2 linked regions of the Homo sapiens genome follow. The protein of the gene in region 2 purifies or fractionates together with the protein of the main gene of each other region. This does not show direct contact. Each region holds a gene or a part of one and is shown on either strand. Other genes may lie near its edges.

Region 1 (7,629 bases), on a different chromosome or scaffold from region 2:
TCAGAGACTCAGAGTTTAATTGGAATGCAGTTAAGGGCAGGTACAGTTCTAGAAGGGCCGAGGAACCCACGAGCTGTGCCTTGGGGTGGAGGGGTCAGAGGCAGCCTCCCGGAAGAGGCCCTATATGAGCAGTCATTAGGTATAAGCCTGGGCTTGCAGGTAGCACAGGGGAGCTTTCAGGCAATGGGGGTATCCCCCGCAGCACTGTGGGAGGAGCACTGGAAATCCAAACACTGATTTTGTATCCCTTCTTAGTTAGATGACTTGGGGAAATGTCAGTCTAGGGAAGTTGTAAAAACGATTCCAGCCCAACCTATCCACTCGGGGTGGCTGTGGGAGTCAAATATAAATGAGATGATAGATGTGGAAGTGTAAATCACCACAGTGATCTTTTCTTAACTGTCTTTGTACCTCACCCAGGGTCTTAACTATGGCAGCCACTTAGTAATTATTTGTTGGCCTTCCACTGTGAGGATGAAGGCGTTGCGTATTGTGGCTTCTGTGTCTAGTGCTATAAGGGATGTACCTTGCAGGGCCAGCCCTTGGCTACACAGGTAGCAATGTCTGCCATGTTCTTCAGGCCTAAGCGACAGCCAAGATTCAAATGCCTATAATTTGATTATTAGTCTTGACCCTAAACTAGGGGTTGTCCTCATAATATTTCTTCACAGTAGGAAGAGATCTTATAATCTCTTGAGGATGTAAAAACAGATGAGCCTCACTTCTGGTCCTTAGAGACTCAGAGTTTAATTGCAATGCAGATAAGGGCTGGTGCAGTTCCAGACGGGCTGGGTGGGAAGTTACAGATGGGGTTACAGATGGGGTAGGAAGCAAGGTGACTTTGCCCGTGAGACACAGCCCACTAAGGGTGGGGCCTTGGTCAGGAATGACGCTTTGGGTTATGTCATTTTCCTTAGGACCTGGAAGCTTAATTGCAGGTGAAACAAACAAAAAAATCCTATTATTGGCAACCTTCTGTTGAGTAATGTAGAGATGGATTTTGAATAATATGAGCTCATATTCCATTCAATGAAATCTACTTTACATTGGAATAAAGGGGTTCAGCACATCTTTTGGGGGGAAGTAGTGTTTGTTAGGATTTTAGGGGACATAGTGTCCTTCTATTTTAGTCAAAAGATACTGTCCTGGGAGGATAGGAGTGATGATGGAGTGACTGGAGACCTGGAAGGCTGATACTCACTGAGCCACTGGGCCTTTCTGTAGTTGTGGTTCATTTGTTCTTTTCATCCTCTGAACACTAGAGAAAGGAATTATTCTGTGGTCCAGCTATACTTTTGAGTAGAGTCTGCCTTCTGTTTTACTAACACCTGGATTCACAGTGTGAAAATGCAAGAAAACCTACCCTCAGTCATCTGGGTGGCAGCATTTGGCATTGTGAGGGAGCCAGGTTGACTTTTCCCCTCCTGAAGCCCAGAGCAGCAAGGAGGCCAGTCGCTGGGCGGGTGGCCGGCGAGCCCCTTTCTTTCTGAGCTGCAGGTTCTGTCTTGCAGAGAGGCTGCAGGGAGCTGGCCTGCCCATGGAGAGCGCCATCCTGCACGGGAAGCTGGGCGAGCATGAGAAGGCGCTGCATATCCTGGTGCACGAGCTGCAGGACTTTGCAGCGGCCGAGGACTACTGCCTGTGGTGCTCCGAGGGCCGAGACCCACCCCACCGCCAGCAACTCTTTCACACGCTGCTGGCCATCTACCTGCATGCTGGCCCCACTGCCCACGAGCTGGCCGTGGCTGCCGTGGACCTGCTGAACCGCCACGCCACCGAATTTGATGCAGCCCAGGTGCTGCAGATGCTGCCTGACACCTGGTCAGTGCAGCTCCTCTGCCCATTCCTGATGGGGGCCATGAGGGACAGCATCCATGCCAGGAGGACCATGCAGGTGGCTCTCGGCCTGGCCAGGTCCGAAAACTTAATCTACACCTACGATAAGGTAAGTGCTGGCCCCCACGAGCTGCTTCCTGGTCAGTCAACATTGTACTGAAGGTAGATTTTACTGATGGAAAAATAGTCTTTGTTGGTTTTTCTTTTTTCTGTCTCTATGACTACAACACATCAATATCTGATCCTACTCATAGAAACTGAGGTCTGTGTGAGCAGAGGCAGAGGCTGGGCTGGTAGGTGTAACATCGGTGTAGTTTTTCTCCCCTTTTGGACGCTGGTGATTAAGAGAGTCTGTAGGGAGGAGAGCAGCATCAGAATATCAGGCGCTTACCCAGCATGTGCTGTGTGCCAGGCACTGACCTAGGCATTTTACGTCATGCTTGCATTTTGTCATCATGACAGTTTTATGCAGTATTTACTGTCAGCATCTCCATTTCACAGGAGAGGAAATTGAGGCAGAGAGCAGTCGCATGCTCAGGAAATGGGCGTGCCCAGAGCTGCCTCCCAGGCCAGTTGAGAACCCCACATTCTTCGTCCCCACACTGTACTCACCTTCGGGAGACTTCTTTCTTGTGGGCCTAAATTCCACATGGCTGGCAGAGTCTTCTTTCCAGAGCGGGTATCCGACGTGTTCCCCTCCCACTTAGAAGCCTTTGCTGACGCTCCCTGTCCTGGAAGATGCAGTCCCACCTCCTTCAGCATATCCCTCCCCACCTCTCTCTGCTTCCCAGCTCATGTCCTGGCTTTAGCACAACCTTCCAGATGTGATTTGGTATTTCATACTTTGTTGCTTTTGTAAATGCTGTACCCACTGCCTGAGATATTCTTACCTTTTTCTTTGTCCCCAGCAAATGCCCAGTCAAAATTTAGCCTTTATTTTTTTCCCTTGGTGAAGCCATCTCATACCTCTTAAGTAGAGTAATCACCTTCTCTTTCACCCACTTTTACTTGGTGTTCGCATTCACAGCTGTTACCCGCTACTATTAGAGTTTGGGTTCTTTGAGGACAGGGAACTTCATTTCTTTATCTCAGTGTCTGTAGGGCTAAGCCTGCCATGTCGAAGGCATCTAATCCGTGTTTGTGGAATGACTGATGCAACTAAGGAGTGCAGGATGAATCGCTAAGTTGCTGCTTGATCCTGCCAATAGACCAACCTGCCTCGGTTGACACGAGTGAATTGTGTAGAAAAACTTTATAACTTTCAGAACTCAAGTCCTGTTGATCAGACAGGGACCGATGGCATTAAGACTCAGTTTCACCAGTTACCTCTAAGGAAACGGAAGGGTGTCTCCCAGGACCAACCAGGAATATGCCACTTGTTAGCTGTGTAACTTTGACTACATCCCTTATTTGTTTGTGCTTTACTTTTCTTATTTGCAAATGAGAGAACCCTGGAGTTACACTATTATATGGTCTCATTCAGCATTAACATTCATGACTTTCTAACAGGCCTTGCTTGAAATGATCAGAGCCAGAGAATGTTGGAGAGAGGATCTTAAGTAGAAATGCCTCAGCCAGACAAGCAACAATTACTTTTGTGAAATAAGAAAAGCAATTGTGTAACTTTCTTCCTTGTCCAGTTACTAAGGATGGTTTTATTTACACCTTTAGCATTTCATTTCAAGAAGTTGATATTAAAGAAATCCTCATCATAATAATAACCCATGGAGTAATGCATGTCAACTCTGCAAAACTAGAACGTAGCCACTTTAAATATACTTAACACATGACAGCATTCTCAGTCTTGGTTTCTTCTTGCAGATGAAGTTGAAAGGAAGCTCAATCCAACTCTCAGACAAAAAGCTTTGTCAGATATGCCAAAATCCCTTTTGTGAGCCTGTGTTTGTTAGATACCCAAATGGTGGTCTTGTGCACACCCACTGTGCCGCCAGCAGACACACAAACCCCAGCTCATCCAGTCCTGGCACTCGGACTTGAAAAGCTTGGCCCAAGGGTGCGAGGGGAACTCCGAGTTCTTTCTGAGCCTGCTGGACATGAAGAGCAGATGACCACCATGCTCTGTGTCAGCCAGGACGAAGGGAGACATCTGGGTGCCAGGGAGCCTTCCGTCCATACGCAACAAGGACTCCTCGCTGCTGACCAGGCTCTATGAATGTACATGGAATGACCAGGCTCTATGAATGTACATGGAAAACCCCTAAAAATCCCCAAAACAGAAACATACAAGAGTTCACCTGTCCAGGTACATAGTAATCCAAGACAGAGGTCTACTTTGAAAAAAAAAAAAAGGGAGTCTTCCTCATGCAGTCCAGACCCAGGTGGGGGATCCCCCACCACCCCCACACTCCAACCTTTAGACTCATGTTTGCACTGGAAACGTGGCTTCACCATGGCTGGCGACAAAGTCCTCTCTTGCCTGGGTGAGTGGCGAGGGCACAGAGCCTCATGGGGGTCAGCCTTGCCCTCCTGCAGAAACACGTTCTCCATCCACGCCGCTCACTCATGGGCCCATTTCCCAGGGTTACCTCGTGGGCTCTGCCTTTGCCCTCAGAAACGGCTGACCCTGGAGAAGTACCTTTGTTCCTTCTTTCTTCCTCTCCGGCTCTCAGCTCCCAAAAGATTCTGCCTTGTGTACCCAAGCACTCACTCTTGGGTGAACTAATGCTTCTGGCTGCCTAGCAAGTGAAGATCTGTTGAGAAACTGAGAACGCTCCAAGAGAGAAGCTGCTCTCCCCTCCTTGAAGAAGCCGCGGACACGGGAAACCCACGGCGGGCAAGGGCCCAGCTGTGTGCTCCTTTCCTGTCATGGCATCTGCTGATTTGAAACTCCATGACGAACACGTTGAACTAAACATTTTTATTTAAATTTGTATCATGTTCGTAGTTGCTCTCTTGTTGAGAGAGTCATCTGTCCTGTTTGTTAGGGGTATTTTTTCTTGTTAAAATGTATCTCCTGTTGAATACTCGGGAAATTCAAAGGGAAGTGTGGTCAGCACACACTGAGCGTTCTTTTCTGGAGAGGCCGGTTTTAGCCTCGTACCTTTAGCAGGACCGACAGCGGGTGGAAGGGCCCGTGTGCTGGATGGGGGTGTCGCCTCCTGGATGGCACACCCTCCCGAGGACATCCAGACAGGCTGTGTCACCCTCCAGCACTTTATGTGCCTGCTCTGAGGTGTCCTGAACACACAGCAACGGCCTCTCCTTCATCACAGGCCGGGGATTCCTTTTGTGTTTCTGTATAACATCGATGACGAGCTGAAGCTGTTGTCACTTCACTGCCCTCTTTGGAATTTCTTCATTGTGCTGACTGATTCTATTAGGGGCTAACAATAAAGGCAGTCTACCCACTACTATCATGCTTGGGAAACAAGCGTCAGCTTGTACATATGACAAGAGAGGACCCTGAATACACCCTCTCTTCATCAGCCCAAGCCTTACTGAGGTGGGATGAAGACCTCATTCTCTGTTCTTTAAAACATGTTTCGTGAACTAATATTGGTCCATGTATTTTTTGTCCTTTTGGGACTCTAAGTGGGTCAAGAAGCAAAAACATCCATGTGTTGTTTGGGGGGAATTGGCACCATTTTTTCCTGACTATGTTTCAATTAACTAAAGAATAAATGATGAAGAAATTCTCCTTGTAGCACAACTGTATGCTGTGTAAATTGGTGTGAGCTCAAAGCCCAGTCATGTGTTTTACCTGTGGGTGACTCTGTTGTAGAATGGTCATATTACTGCATATGTTATCATGACAACTTGTGAGTTTGAGTTTATATTTCTCAAAGAACAAGTTACCCGTATATGCAACATTGCGCCATTAAAAGCTTATTTCTCTGTACACAAAATGGGTAAAATCTTGAAAAAACTTAGTAATTTCTCATTCCTAACACACAGACAGAGTCTCACTCTGTCACCCAGGCTGGAGTGCAGTGGCGCAATCTCGGCTCACTGCAACCTCCACCTCCTGGGTTCAAGCGATTCTGCTGCCTCAGCCTCCCGAGTAGCTGGGACTACAGGTGCATGCCACCACGCCCAGCTAATTTTTGTATTTTTAGTAGAGACGGGGTTTCACCATGTTGGCCAGGATGGTCTCGGTCTCCTGACCTCGTGATCTGCCTGCCTCGGCCTCCCAAAGTGCTGGGATTACAGGCGTGAGCCACTGCGCCCAGCCAACACTAGTCATTTTTATTTTTTCACTGAACATTGATCAATACTCTAAAATGTTTGTCATCCTTTAGAATAATGGGAATTAAAGTTGAGCAGTTTTCCATCTCTACCAAATCCTTCACCACAAGCAGCATTCTATTACAGTATGAAGAATTGTCTCATATGTTAAAACTGTACTTTTCTCTAACCTTTCTCTCACTCCTACAAGGCCCTTTTCTCAAATCATATTTCTGAGAGAAATGTATGGTTCTTTCTCACAGGCCTGCTGATTTGTAACTGTGCCATCGAATAGAGCAATTAGATCCATCAGACCTTTTTCCCCTCATTAGGTTCAGTGGAACCATTCTGGTTAAAACAGCATGAACTGAACTCAGTTTACATTCATATTCTATGGGCAATACCATTTGGTTTTTGGAACTGTTTATCTGCTGTTCCCTATCAAGTATTAATGTAGGGATGTCACTCAGGCTGCGTTGCACTGGGCTGAGTTCAACTGCGACGCTCTCACTGACGCGTGCTTACATGTGCTTCTCACTTCCGGAGCACAGGCAGGTGGCTGCGGGGTCCCAGCTCTGAATGGATGCCCATGATGCAACTGGGGCAGCCCTTGCTTTTTGCTTGCTCTCCCACAGAAACCTTTGTCCTTGCAACTTTATCCTTTGTCCCGATTGGGTCCCAGATACACAAAATGTACAAATGTAAACTTGCTCATTTTATTAAAATTCTTTTAGTTCTTTGTTCTTTCTGTAATTTTTTAAAATAAAAATTGCCTTGATGGAGTGATGGTTTTCACTCGCACCATACCTAGTCTAAATAAAGAGTTCTAGAATCTGTACCTTCTTGCTTTTCCTAGCACCTACAGAGGACTTGAGTTGCCAACCCCTTAAATTCTGCTATTGTTTTACCAAATTTTAACGTGTCTGCTTCTGAATTTACCCAATGCATATTTTAGGGTGCTCCTTGACATTGGTTGCCATCAGATTAATCATGCACTGAGGAATTCAACCAGGGAGACTTCTGATTACTTCTTATCTACTTTACCTTTTAGCCAGATACTCTTAAATAAGGCTGCACTCTTGGATTTCTAACCCTGAGCATATTCAAAGAACATAACTCTTACAAAATCGTACCTTTTAAATTTTGCTTCATCCCCTACACTGTTGTTGATGGCAGGTCTTTCAGCTATCCTGTTGAATTTCAGAGCACTTTCTCATGTTCTTTAATTCCAGGTGCTATTCCCACCCTGAAGAAAGGGGTATGTTCACACACATGATAATCCTCTGAGTTGTTTTGTTTTGTTTTTTATGAGATGGAATTTCGCTCTTGTTGCCTATGCTGGAGTGCAATGGTGTGATCTCGGCTCACTGCAACCTCCACCTCCCGGGTCCAAGTGATTCTCCTGCCTCAGCCTCCCGAGTAGCTGGGATTACAGGTGCCCGTCCACCACACCCAGCTAATTTAAAAAATATATATTTTTAATAGAGACAGAGTTTCACCATGTTGGCCAGGCTGGTCTTGAACTCCTGACCTCAGGTGATCCACCTGCCTTGGCCTCCTAAAATGCTGGGATTACAGGCGTGAGTCACCATGCTTGGCCCCCCGAGT
Region 2 (7,807 bases):
AGCCAGCTGTATATTTCAGCTGGACACACACTAAATGAAGTTGGAGTTGTGTTTGAAAAGAAGGAGCAGGAATGGTAGAGGGCAAGAAAGTGTCAGCTGTGTCTGTAATACTTTATTTTCTGGAATGAGATCTGAAGCACGTGGGAAAATATCAACAGATTTGTTAAATCTAGGTGGTAGGGACTGGGTCTTTTTTTGTTTTCAGTTTTTTTTTAATATTTCATATTTTAAAAAGAAAAATAGCACAAAATAATGAAAGATAGTGCTCAGATCAAGAGCAGCAGTGCTCAGTGCCATTCTGGTCATCGAAACCTGAGTAACAGAAGAGTGTGCATGTGCCCTAAGTATGTAAAGAACATCACATTTGCAAGTTAGAAGGGAGATGGGGAAGGTGATGATAGTCTGTGGTTGCGAAGATAGGCTGGGTAAGATGACCTTGAAACATAGCAGTCATCCAAAATCATGAGTGTGAAGGTCAAAAAGAGGTGAGGATGACCTGCTTACGCCAACTGCTGTGGCATCTGACTTTTGGCCATCAGTGTCTTTATAAAAAAGACACTCATGGGAAATTGCAAGTATGAATTTTTGAGGGTGAAATGAATGTGAACAACAGCACATTTTTCATGAGTCACTGATGGAGTTGCTACTAGGAATCCATAGTCAACATAATGCCTTGTCCTATGTCTGATGTTGAAAGCAATACCTGTAGATTGTAGTACATTATAATCTTGTACTGTCTTCCTTCACTTATCACCTTTAATTGCCTACACATTATTACAGATGTTATAGAATAAATGATTACATTCTATAGAGGATAGTCTCATATTTTGAAATACCTGCCTGGGATCATATAAATGAAACTTAAAATGTTTTCCTGTTTTTCTGATTGGGAGCCTTGAATTTTGACCAAATGAAGTAGGAGATAGCAGTAAGCTGTATTTGTGTACTTTCCCCTCTCCTGGCTGTTTGCCTCTGAATAATGAATTTTCCTAGAAAATGCTATCTGCAGGCGGACAGATTGTACCTGTTTAGAAAAATGTAATCCTGCTGAGGATATGGCTCCTTCCTGGTTTGCATATTTTGCTGTTTTCTTTTTTAGCTTGTAGACACAGTGGCCTCTGTCTAGACTGCTGGCCCTGCCTTTCTCTTATATAATTCATGCCATGGGCCTGGAGCACCCACGAGAGTCAGAGCCATTTTTTAAAATTGTTTTATCTGAGATGTTGTGGTTGAAACCATTACTCTTAAGTTTTTTATTTTTGTCTTGGAGGCTAAGCAGCTTTATATGTTTGCTTTTAAATTTATTTAAAGTTTCCTGACATCCATATTTCTTAGCTATCTTTCTTACTGTATTTGTTATTTTTCTCTTCTACCTGTATGTTTTAATGCAGTCTGTTAAAATTTTAATGTATTTTTTTAAAAATCCAAAAAAAATTGATTCCTGGTAGAATTTTAAAGAATAAAACTTCATAGGCAGTTTCTCAATTAATGTAGGAATACTAAAATCATGTAATTTCCTGTTCATCAATACTAGAAATGGCAGGCATAGAACTTTAATCTAGACATTAGTTTTGTTTTCCTGAATATTAATTTGTCTTTGTATAATTAGGGGAAAAAGGCTTTCGGCTGGATTCACCCAAAGCCAGTGCTCTTTGGGATTTTCAGAGGAACACGTGGACCACTGAGGATAGAGGGCTGCAGTTGGCTGCTCCCTTACTTTTCTTCCCCAGTGGCATGAATTTAAAACTTATGAAAGCAAAATGCCCATCTAGCTTGTCAAGTCGAGAGTGACTTCAGTATGAAGAAAGCCAAAGTGCCCCCTCTAAACAGTGGCACTTGCCCGTGAAAGACACATGCTTCTCAGCCTCAGAGCTGGGCTGTGGTGAGACAGCGCTGTCTGTTAATGTGAACTTCTATGATGTGACATGTGTAACTGCACATAACTGCGTATGATAAGACACATAGGGCCCAAAGGGAGAAGCCACAGGCACAGCCCCAGAGCGTCTCTGTCCTTCAGGCCTTGAGTTTCTCCCTCTGAAAAAGCAGCAACAAGTTCTGGTTAAAAAAAAATAATAATAATAAATGAAATGACATCTGGCTTATGCACACCTCCTGGAGCCTCTCAGTTTCCTACTAATACCTAAGAAAACCCAGCAAAGGGTGGGAGCTCACACTGTGCCCCACAGAATGGACATGAAAGGTAAAGTGTCGCCTGTCCCTGCTGTGTCCCCACCTAAAAGCAGGGGAGGATCTTGGACCCCATCGTGCCTCCAGTTCTGAAATACAACATTGGTACCAGCCAGAAATGGGCATCATCCTCCACTGTGTGCTTCTGACTTCTGAGGCTGCCAAAGCATTGTGATGTCTCTTGTCATTCTCCAGGCAGGAAGGGAGGAAATAGTAAAAAGCCTGCAGGGGAATAAGAAAAATGTGTAAAGAAACAAAAGCTATAATGCTGGGATGAAGAATAAAGAAAAGGACTCTTATGAGAGAATATTTGTATTCATGGTCATTTTTCAAACCCCTCCCAGGAGTCACCAAATTTGAAGGTTATTATAGTCAGTTAATACCACACACACACACACACCACATTCATAGCACTATGCTGAATGGTTTGGATTAGATTTGGAAAGAAAAAGATAGGTTGCATCCTCAAGGGGATTTAAGACAGAGATTGTATCTGTTTAGTTTATTATCTATACCCAGTACCCTATACGTGATAGGGACCCAGTACTTATTTGTGCAGTAAATAGATTAATTTATGAAATAAATTGATGATTTTGGAATAGCAGGTTTTCATTCTGGGTAAAGATCTGAAGAATGGAATGAACACATGATGTAGGAGCCAAAGTCTGCCCAAGAGGATCTGTATAAGGAAGCCCTCTAAAGTAGCAATAGGGTTAGTTAATATAGGGCCTTCTTTGCCAGACTTTGGAATTTATGTTTGATTATACAAATGCTACAGGAGCCCGTGTATGGTTGGAAGAAATGATGAAATGACGCACAGAGTAATGAGTGGATCCTGGCTGGCCAGGTCAGCCTGGCAGTGGTTTGGCAGGAAGAGGGTACTGAGGGCAAGAGAATCAGTGAGTGCCCCTTTTGAGTATTTCAAGCATGCCAGCTTTTGGAATCCCCAGTACAGTGTCCCTTCACCCCTCAGATTTGAGTCTACTTAAGATGGCTTTTCTTTTAAAATGTATGCATTAGATTCTGCTTCGTGAAGGCTGCAAGAAGATTCTCGTAGCTGACTCTTTGTCCTTACTGAAGAAAATGCACCGAACTCAAATGAAAGGTGTTCTTGTTGATGGTGGGTAAAATTGAAATAATCATATGGAACCACGTGCCCTGCTTTCAGAAATGGCCAAGCAGGTATAAACAGGGCATAATCCAAAGTATGTGTGTTTTCTTACAGAGGAGAACATCTGTGAGTCGTGCCTTTCCCCTATTCTTCCATCAGGTAAGAAGGTTTTCCCCAAAAAAATCCCAAACATGTATTTTAATGATGAGTGGAATCAAAATTTTGGAATTAGCCAACTACCGTTTATAAAACTATATAACTTTCAGAATAACCCAGTGGAGAGAAGTGTTGTGGCTTCCATCCTGCTCAGTGGAATGCTGGTGCTGCCATTGCTTAGAGCTGAGGTTCTCAAGCTCTAGGGTGAGTCATCGTCACCTGGCAGGCTTATTGGAACCCAGATCGCTGACCCAGTCAGACTCCCTAGAGTCTCTGGTTCCAAACTTCCAGGGCAGGAACTGAGAATGTATATTTCTAACAAGTTCCCAGGTAATGTTGATGCCACTGGTTCAGGGGCCCTTCTTTTAGAACTGCTAGTCTAGGGTAAAAACAAAATGAAAACTAACCATCAGCATTTAAATTTCAAGGTAGAAGAACCATATACATGTCTGGGAAAAAAAATTTATAGGTAGCATTCCCTTTTCTTTAGTGTTTTTCTCTGATATATGGTTCTACATGCCCAAGTCATCTCACATTTCAGTGGAAACATACATAATCCCTGCCATCTAATTGGAACTGTGAGTCTTTAAAAGACATAAGCATTTGTTTATTTCTAGTTCTTGGCAGATAGATATATGTCTTCATCTGTAATGAAAAGCACCTTCTTAAGGTTTATTATGACAGAAGAAATTTGCATAATTCAAAAGCGGAAACTAACAAAGCATTGTTAGGATGCTAACAAATGCTTTTCAAATATAAGTTCAGCATAACAAAGTACTAAAAGACCTAGTTGACCTCATGTTTACTTAGGATTAAAGGATTATTTCATGGGGCAGTCCATGAGAAGTTGTTCTACTTAGGTTCTTTTCTAGAGGAATTAGATTTGGATGTTTAAGTGCTTCTGTTGAAAACTGCATGGGCTCAGGTGAAGAAGTGAGCTTCCATAGCATTTCAGACAGTGTTGCAGCAAAAAGGAACCACATACATTCCCACTCTACAGTTAGATTTAACTCCAAATTTACTCTGCTGATGACACTAAATCTTACCAAAAATAAGCTGGCCACACAGAGCAGGAACAGATGAGGGGATCTGCCCAAGCACAAGTGCAGTAAAATGCAAGGTCACCACAGCCTGGGCTTGTAACCCAGGTCCGCCTCTGAGTCAGTGTGTGGTCTTGGCAAAGGTAGCAGGTGGACTGGCAAAGCATTTTTATGAAGCCACAGACTCAACTTCAGCTGTGGTGTATAATGATTATAGGGGTTAGGGGCGCATTGGCACATACACTTGCTGGTTTTCCTACAGTTGTCCTCAATGTAGTCTGGGTAAGTGACACAGAGGCTAAGCAAGTAACCTGTGAATCGCATAGCAACATGATTATAATACCTGTTTTGTGTCTGATCATACCACCCCTCAGGAATGCTTTTGTAAATAAGCCATTCTCTAAAGGCACCTTATTGCTGAAAATTAAACTGCAACTCGACTTTCAGTCGGGATTGGTTTAAAATGATCTTGCTTGTTGCATTAAGTTCTCCTCCTTTCTCTGCCCTCCTCGCCAGATGCAGCTAAGCCCTTCAGCGTGGTGGTCTTCCATTGCCGGCACATGTTCCACAAGGAGTGCCTGCCCATGCCCAGCATGGTGAGTTGGCAGCTTGGCACCTATCAACTAGAGGGAAATTAACACACTTAGAGGAATGTGCTTTAAACTGTAACCCTTCATCCTTATGGCTGTATGGGTTAAAAAAAAATTACAATGTGGATTTATATCACATAACAAAAATTAATCTAGTTTTCAAATGTAAAAATATTTAGAAATGTTCTATGTACTATAGTAAACATAAAAGCATACCCATTTGAAGGAATTCATTCAGGCCCAGTTGACAGCTGTCATGCTGTAGAGATGAGCAACAACAGTAGAGAGCCATTGTGTATCTTATGTGTTTCTCAGCCTGATTTGTGTTCCATGATGCTATCATTTTTTTAGTGTCATATTCCTCCAGGTCACATTAGACGTATTCTGCTGTTGGGTGTCCTTGGAGTCACAGAGTAACAGCTGATCTAGACTAAATCCTATGTTAACCAGAAATAAACTCCAGAGAAAGGAGTGCCATCCTATTACTTCCTCTCCACCCCCTGACTAACGCTACCTTAGTGTTTCTGAATATGAGAGTAGAAAAAGAAGATCATTTTTTAAATATGTGTTTTTAAATTGCATTTTTAGAACTCTGCTGCACAGTTCTGCAACATCTGCAGTGCTAAGAACCGTGGACCAGGAAGTGCAATTTTGGAGATGAAAAAATAGCTCATTTCTCCTTGTCAGTCTCCTTGTCACCACTCTTTTTGAGACTGTTTTTGCAACAACAAAAGCATTTGTTGACACTCGTGCTGTTAAGAGATTTGTTTATGTTTATATTATACTCAAAAACAATTTCTTCATCTATTCCTGTACTAATGGTTTCTCTTTGCAGTTCACAGAGAATTTGGGGCTCTCTTCATGCCTTGAAATTTTGGGGTCCATAGTGAATATTTTGTTATTTATTTGTTTGGCTCATTCTTTATATAGTAATGGAAACATAAGTCTAGGAGTTAGAAATGAATTTTTTAGACCTTAGTAAAACCATTTAACCATAAAATGGACAACTGAGAATTCTCCCAGCTGCCTGAAAGCGTCGCCAACTGTGGTTATCCTGCAAGCTGCTACCTGCAACTTGGACGTTGTTTCCACGTGCTCTGCTGGCTACGATTCTTGCATTCTGGGTTTGGCTTTTTTCTGTGTCATCAACTATGGTTATCCTCTAAATAGGCATTTAATGAAACATTGTACAAATTGTCACTCATTTGATGACACCTGGGAATAACATTAGCAGGCTGATGTCCTGCACCATTATGTTTACTAATCACATGTTCTGTGTGCTGTGACGACTGTCAAAGAGTATCTGGCCATGGCGGACACTCAGCATTTGTTGATTGAATAAATGTTAGCTCTTCTCATTGTGAAGGACTCACTTTTACTGGGATAAACAAATGCAGTTAAGAATTCTGGCACCCTTGTAAGGAAGAAAAGAGAGTTCAACACCTTCGAGTCTGAGCGCTTGTGGCTAGAGTTTGCCAGGAGGGAGGAAACCAGTGACCCTGAAAACTGAGGGTGCCTCAGGAGCAGTGGGACCACCTGATGCTGAAGGACGGACTAATGATGTTTCCTCTTGCCTTCTCTGGTGCCTCCATTGCCCTCATGGAACAGAGCATATCATAGAGGGAGAAAAGTCAAACTTGTAATTGTGTCTTACAGTTACTGGCTTCATCTTCCTTGGGATATATGGTCATCCTCTAATGAGTGTAAAAGTGCGCAAAACACATCCTTATTGTTCCTGATCTCTTAGTCCCATAAATGGGAACAAATACAGCTTTCTGCTTCTTTCTTTTTGGGGAAAGGACAGGGTGCTAGTGAGTACTGACAGCATGCCAGCTACCGAAGTCACCCAGCCATTCCCATGAGCAGCAGTTCATTTAATTGTCACAGCGTCGCCAGGAAGAAGATCTGATAAACCTAGGTTTACAGATAAAGAAAGCAAAATGTAGAGATGTTGTTGAGGTCACAGAGGTGACTGCCTAACTTCAGAGCAGGGCTTCTGATCCCTTTAAGAAATTACAGGGCCAGCCGGGCATGGTGGCTCACGCCCGTAATCCCAGGGCTTTGGGAGGCCTTGGCAGGTGGATCACCTGAGATCGCACGTTCGAGACCAGCCTGACCAACATGGAGAAACCCCATCTCTACTAAAAACACAAATTAGCCAGGCGTGGTGGTACATGCCTGTAATCCCAGCTACTCAGGAGGCTGAGGCAGGAGAATCACTTGACCCCAGGAGACGTAGGTTGTGGTGAGCTGAGATCGCGCCATTGCACTCCAGCCTGGGCAACAAGAGCAAAACTCCGTCTCAAAAAAGAAAAGAAAAGAAAAGAAATCATAGGGCCAAGTTCAAAGGAAATGCACAGAACATATCTTCACATTAGAGTTAAGAATTCTCTAGCAAACAACAGATTTTTTTGTTGTTGTTAGTCACAAATACTTAGAACTGGAAGGCTCTTTGTTATTATTGAATGTACCCCTCAGCCTTCTCAGCATTTCCTTATCCCAAGACTAGTGTGCTTTCTGCTACACTGCTAGTTTTCAGTTTTGTTCTTACCCAATTGTTTTTTCTTTTCAACATTACCAATTTACAGATTCAGTTTATTACATTTACATTAATCCTCACTTATGATTTGAGCAAGCTCATTTCCAGAAAAGTTTACTTTAAGATCATCAATAGGATTTGCTAATTTCAGTGAAGTCATTTTGCTTCAGGGGTAAATTATCCT

Evidence for each region.
Region 1: the proteins of VPS41 (region 2) and TGFBRAP1 purify together in Homo sapiens (affinity purification with mass spectrometry; 4 studies listed by BioGRID and IntAct, with this or other methods). This does not show direct contact.

The regions. Positions count from the first base shown.
Region 1 is NC_000002.12:105,263,588-105,271,216, reverse strand, and holds the end of TGFBRAP1 (transforming growth factor-beta receptor-associated protein 1), read left to right. Parts: intron 1-1,511; coding exon 1,512-1,945; intron 1,946-3,657; coding exon 3,658-3,834; 3' UTR 3,835-6,803; downstream 6,804-7,629. UniProt on the Homo sapiens protein: Plays a role in the TGF-beta/activin signaling pathway. It associates with inactive heteromeric TGF-beta and activin receptor complexes, mainly through the type II receptor, and is released upon activation of signaling.
Region 2 is NC_000007.14:38,724,192-38,731,998, reverse strand, and holds part of VPS41 (vacuolar protein sorting-associated protein 41 homolog), read left to right. Parts: intron 1-3,207; coding exon 3,208-3,307; intron 3,308-3,412; coding exon 3,413-3,457; intron 3,458-3,564; exon of another isoform or gene 3,565-3,658; intron 3,659-5,010; coding exon 5,011-5,090; intron 5,091-5,672; coding exon 5,673-5,753; 3' UTR 5,754-7,807. UniProt on the Homo sapiens protein: Plays a role in vesicle-mediated protein trafficking to lysosomal compartments including the endocytic membrane transport and autophagic pathways. Acts as a component of the HOPS endosomal tethering complex.